Regions from separate parts of the Homo sapiens genome. Here region 2 is linked to region 1. Evidence: fine-mapped QTL for protein levels in blood plasma. A gene starts in region 1. The other region holds a variant in brackets. All regions are shown on one strand. Distances are from middle to middle. Region 1 holds the start of C1RL (complement C1r subcomponent like). Region 2 overlaps LOC124902869 (a long non-coding RNA gene).

What was found. PIP is the chance, under the fine-mapping model, that this variant and not a neighbour inherited with it causes the effect. Sun 2018 read protein levels with aptamers (SomaScan).
Region 2: its variant is fine-mapped to the plasma level of the C1RL protein (Sun 2018, PIP 0.95).

Annotation. Positions count from the first base shown.
Region 1 is chr12:7,108,247-7,110,746 of GRCh38, reverse strand. C1RL (complement C1r subcomponent like) reads left to right here and starts at 1,533. Exons shown (of 6, transcript NM_016546.4): 1 at 1,533-1,637; 2 at 2,268-2,496. The coding sequence starts at 1,567. C1RL-AS1 (C1RL antisense RNA 1) reads right to left here and starts at 2,439. Exons shown (of 12, transcript NR_026947.1): 1 at 2,266-2,439; 2 at 1,800-2,074; 3 at 600-683; 4 at 175-449. RefSeq lists enhancers at 1,592-1,671, 2,312-2,481, 1,314-2,500.
Region 2 is chr12:7,169,247-7,172,272 of GRCh38, reverse strand. The region is part of intron 1 of LOC124902869 (a long non-coding RNA gene); the gene reads left to right. Among named protein-coding and RNA genes, the nearest start is that of PEX5, 19 kb to the left of the region's middle. The variant A/G (reference allele first, on the strand shown) is at 1,641.

The DNA of each region.
Region 1 (2,500 bases):
CTTGGCTCCCTGTCCTCTTTCTCACCCAGCCTCACTCCAGCACTTTAACCCCTATCCATTTAGGGTGACCACCAGTCCTGGCTTGCCCAGAACTTCCCTCATTTTAAAACGGAAAGCCTCATGTCCTGGGAAACCCGTCGGTCCCACGCAAATCAGAACAGTCGGTCACCCTACCTGTCCTGGAGTTTCCTTCCAAGGCCTTACTCCTCCCTCCTCCAGCTCATCTCCAGGAAAGTCTTCTCAGATGGGCTAGCCTGAGTTTTCCAGTTCCTGCCCCTCTTAGCAAACAAGGAAATAATGCTCTGAAGGGAAACGAGGGGTGGACTCCCCAATCCTGATCTGAGTCTTGGCTGGTTTCTTCTTAACACATGGGTCTTGGGATTGGTACCATTGTTCACTCTTTGGCTGCATCTCTGGCTCCCAAGGTGCTCCAGGTGACCCTAAGAGTTCTATGAGAGAGCAGGTTTCAGTGGTCTCAGGGGAGGAAAGAAGTCCTAGTCAGAGAGGCCCACTCCTCGAAGATGGGTATGGGAGATCATCCCCAGTTGTGTTTGGGGTTGGGGTGTGGCAGACAGGTAGGCTTGATCTCAAGACTGTACCTGAGACATTGCATCTGTCCTGGCCATCACTCTCTTATCATCTCCTTGTAGCCATAGACTGTGGCTCTCCTAAATCTCTCTAGCCTAGAAAAACCAAAGATGCAGAGCACACCCTGTTTGGGTCTGTAACTTGCCTCCATATTACTATATGCAAAATGGGGGAAGCAATAGATTCTTCTCTGAGAGGTGTGTGTGCGCGCGCACATGCATTTGTGTGTGCATACAACGTAAGGCCTTCCACACACCTGCCTTCTCTGAGGATGGGACCACCCATCTCCATAAGAGCCTTCTGGCCTCCTACCAAGCTGTGGGTGAGTGTCCTTCCTCGGGGAGCGGTGAGAGCAGGCAGGGGCTCTAGTATCTGCCTAAAGAAGCTTGAGTGACGGCTTGAGTGATGACTGGGACTAGGGACTGAGGGACACCTGGGCTCGACCCCAGCCCTGACCATGCTGGACAAGCAGCCTCCAGAGGTTGTGAATAGGATTCAAAAGACCACCTAAGCGCATGTCCCCCACCCCTGCTTGGGGAGGAGGGAAAGGAAGAGAAAGCTCAAGTTCAAGGATCACAAACTTCAATTCTACAAGAGGGAGGCTCCCCGGGTATGTCGTGAACGGAAAGGTCGGGGAGGAAGAGACATGGCTGATTGAAGGCAGCAGCCATAACTCACAAGGAGCCATCCTACACACATGGCAAAAATTAATGTTAAATAGTACAAAAGGGTCGAGTCAGTGCCCTGCCACCCTGACCTCTGAGGGCCAGCGAGGTTTTTGGACGTTTCTCCCCTAAGCTGCGGCGGGCCCGCTGTTCCTGAGTCAGACGGCAGGTGGCGCTCAGCCCGGAGAATTGGAGAAGGGGAACTGTGGAGTTGCTTAACATTTCCAGGAACTTCCTCCTCCCCCACCGGCCTTCACCTTTTGTTCCCTATCCTGGGCCAGTTCTCTCGCAGGTCCCAGATGTCCAGTTCCAGATGCCTGGACCCAGAGTGTGGGGGAAATATCTCTGGAGAAGCCCTCACTCCAAAGGCTGTCCAGGCGCAATGTGAGTGTGGCCCCGGCAGAGGAGGAGGGAAGAGGACGGGAGGGGAAGAGAAAGGGTGGGTGGCCGCAAACCCTCCCTCCCCCCACCCTACCCCCCCCACACACACATCCCCCCCCCCCCCACACACACACACACACACACACCTCCCCCACATACACACACCAGCAGCAGCAGCAGCAGCAGCACAGCAGATATTCCATGGGGAGACTGAAATTTGCCTGTGGCCTCTAGCACCTTCCCAGAGGGTGGTCGGGGGATATTTACGGCAGACCCTCACTCGCCCCACCATTGCTCCCTCGGATCCCAGGGTGGGGTGGGATCTGCTGAAGCAGAAAGCACCCCCCTCCTTTGGACGAGACTCTCCTGGGAGATGAGCAAAGGTGATGTCTTCGGAGGATGGAAAACCCACAATCCTAGAGCTCAGGCTGCGCGGGAGGCTGTAGGGATTGGGGTGAGGAAGGGGAGCAAGGGAGGAGACGGGAAGTGCCCGGGCCTCAAGGGTGAGGCCACAGCTTCTAGCCCTGCCTCGCGAGGCCTCTGAGTCCTAGCGCGGCTCCCCCGCTCCTCCCACACCCACAGGCTTCCGGCCATAGCTGCGCGGCCCCACCTTGCCCTCCCCCCAACTCACAGGTGGTGGCTGCTTCTCTGGGGAGTCCTCCAGGCTTGCCCAACCCGGGGCTCCGTCCTCTTGGCCCAAGAGCTACCCCAGCAGCTGACATCCCCCGGGTACCCAGAGCCGTATGGCAAAGGCCAAGAGAGCAGCACGGACATCAAGGCTCCAGAGGGCTTTGCTGTGAGGCTCGTCTTCCAGGACTTCGACCTGGAGCCGTCCCAGGACTGTGCAGGGGACTCTGTCACAGTGA
Region 2 (3,026 bases), 61 kb before region 1:
GCAGAGTGAGACCTTGTCTCAAAGAAAAAAAAAAAGAAATTCTGGAATTTGAGTTGGATGTACTGCCCCCATGTTATAATATTAAAAGTAAAATTTCCCATAATTTAGCAAATTAATATCTTATGAAAATTTGGTTTTAGCATGTAGACCATTTTTCAGAAAGTCTATTTTAAATGATTTTGTTTTAATTACAACTAGTTAAATTATACCCAGAATTCCATACATAAATCCCCTTCATAAACCTTATCATGACTTACACAGACCATACAATATGCTTGGACTTTTTGACTTGTCTTATACTATCTCTTTCTTACATAACGAGTCATTTTATTTTAGGACAAGAATTTACAAGATCCCTCTTCATACAAAATTATTCTTTATATTTTTACTTGCCAAAAATCTTTTAATCTGTAATTTTTTATATAATTTTTTTAACTTACTGGCTCCCTCATATTTTGAACCTCTCAATAATTTTTAAATTAAACAAAAACTATTATTATTATTCCCCAATAAAGAATATAATTTTTGTCATATTTTATATAAACCAAGGATGTAAGAAATCCTGCACTGCCCATGAAACACTGACATTTTATAGATGAGAACCATTGCACAATTTCAAGATTTTAAACCACACAAAAAGTTCACTGTTTAAGTATCTATTATATTTAGATGTTGGGAACAGGCCCCCCAAAATCTGGCCATAAACTGGCCCCAAAACTGGCCATAAACAAAATCTCTGCAGCACTGTGACATATTCATGATGGCCATAACACCCATGCTGGAAGGTTGTGGGTTTACCAGAATGAGGGCAAGGAACACCTGGCCTGCCTAGGGCGGAAAACTGCTTAAAGGCATTCTTACACCACAAACAATAGCATGAGCGATCTGTGCCTTAAGGACATGCTCCTGCTGCAGATAACTAGCCCAACTCATCCCTTTATTTCAGCCCATCCCTTCGTTTCCCATAAGGGATACTTTTAGTTAATCTAATATCTATAGGAACAATGCTAATGACTGGCTTGCTGTTAATAAATACATGAGTAAATCTCTGTTCGAGGCTCTCAGCTCTGAAGGCTGTGAAACCCCTCATTTCCCACTTCACATCTCTATATTTCTGTGTGTGTGTGTCTTTAATTTCTCTAGCGCCGCTGGGTTAGGGTCTCCCCAACTGAGCTGGTCTCAGCATTTAGACGTATTTAAGATTTCACTTTTAATAGTTTTATCTAGACTACCACCAAGAACCAAAATAACCACACAAAGCTAGTCACCACTTAAAGCTATTGTAATCATTTTTAAGCCTATGAATATTAATAGTTTATTTAGGTAAAAATCTTAAAGTTAAATTGTAGAAGATACAACATTTTTTTAAAAACTAGTAAGTTTACAATCATCTAATCTGTTTAATTTATGAGCATTCTTTTATAAGGCAATTTGATAGCATGCTAGACACAACACATATTATATGAATGAAGTGACCTATATAAGACAGCTGGATTCAAATTATTTACAAAATTGGGACCATCTATTAGGCCAAAATTTTTTTTGCCCCAGTAGATATGGAAGACAGGAAAAGGCAGGGAAGGAAATCCCATAGCATTAAATAAGGAAGGGAGAAGGCAAACTGCATTGCTCAAGGAAAG[A/G]CCTTGGAGTACCCAGGCTGCCAGAGAGCTCATACAGCAGTGGAGATATTGAAGAAAAATGTTCAGCCAGCCACTTGTCTACCACTGTGGGAAACTGTCCATTGAGTCAGGGTCTAAGACCCCCAGTAAACTTATTTGAGCAAGACAACTAAGTGTAGCTAATGGAAGGTTAGCTCTGTATTGACAGGGAGTTTTTTCCCTATCTCACCAGGGACAGTTAGGACATTCTCATTGCCAGTGGCCCTTTTGCTTATGGTAGACACATATGGGCTCTTGTCTGGGCATCCCAGATGCTGATCTTGTGACACTTTCTTGGGATGGGCAACTTTGAGGTGGCAGGGGGCTTAAAGTAACTGTTAACAATTGAACTTTTGGGCTATTTTTTGTTGTTTTTTTCACCTCTTTTGCCCTGGCCCTATTGTTGTAAACTTTATAGGCCATGTTTAAATGTTGACTTTGGAGGTTTAAAGTCCCATTGCTGCTTTTTGTAGCTTCCTCCTAATGTCAGGGGCAGATTGAGTAGTAAAATGTATACTCAGGAGAGCTTGCCCTTCTGAGGAGTCTGGGTCTGCATTGGTATATTTCCTGAGTGTCTCAAACAAATGACCTTGAAACAGTGGGAATTTTGTCTTTGAGTTATTTCTCTCACCTTGTCATAATTCACTGGCTTAACCACACACCTTTTCTTCTGCTTTTTTTCCACAGCACAGCAAGCAGATGACAATACTTGCAAGACATGATGTGTTAAATTAAAAAACATAGTCTATTTAACAAATTCTTTTATAAATTTTTCTGGATTCTCTGGCCAAATTTTTCCTTGTATAAAACTAAATCACACATAGAAAATGGCACATGTACTCTGTTTCCTCATTTCTATCAGGCACCTCCCTCAATGGACACAGGTTTGATTTTTGGAGCTGATATGGAGCCCTACTCCTGGTGGTACTGGTTGGTACTTTCTCAGGCAGCAGGGTGTATAGGCTGGGGTAGCTGGATAAGAGGAAGGGGTGCCCAATGACCTTGGGTGGAATTCTTCATTAGAGAACTGGCAGGACCCCCCTCAGAACTGGGGGACTGAGGAGACTCCAGGGAGGCCATAGGCCTTCTAGGGGGAGCAGCTAGGAGGGGATCCCTTAGGCACAGCTTCCTGTTACTTAGAAGTAACATGAGCCAATAAAGGACCATAAAAGCCTGTACACAAGGGATCTCCTCTCATTTCCGTTCTTCTTTACAGAATGAGTCTAATCGTAAAATATTATTATAACATATAGAACCATGTTTAGGCCAAATCTATTGGTTTTCTAATTTGTATTGAAACCAAGTGGTATTGCAATAGAATATGAGTTGCTTTTTCTTGAGGCCAAATTTGAATTTGCTCTAATAGCC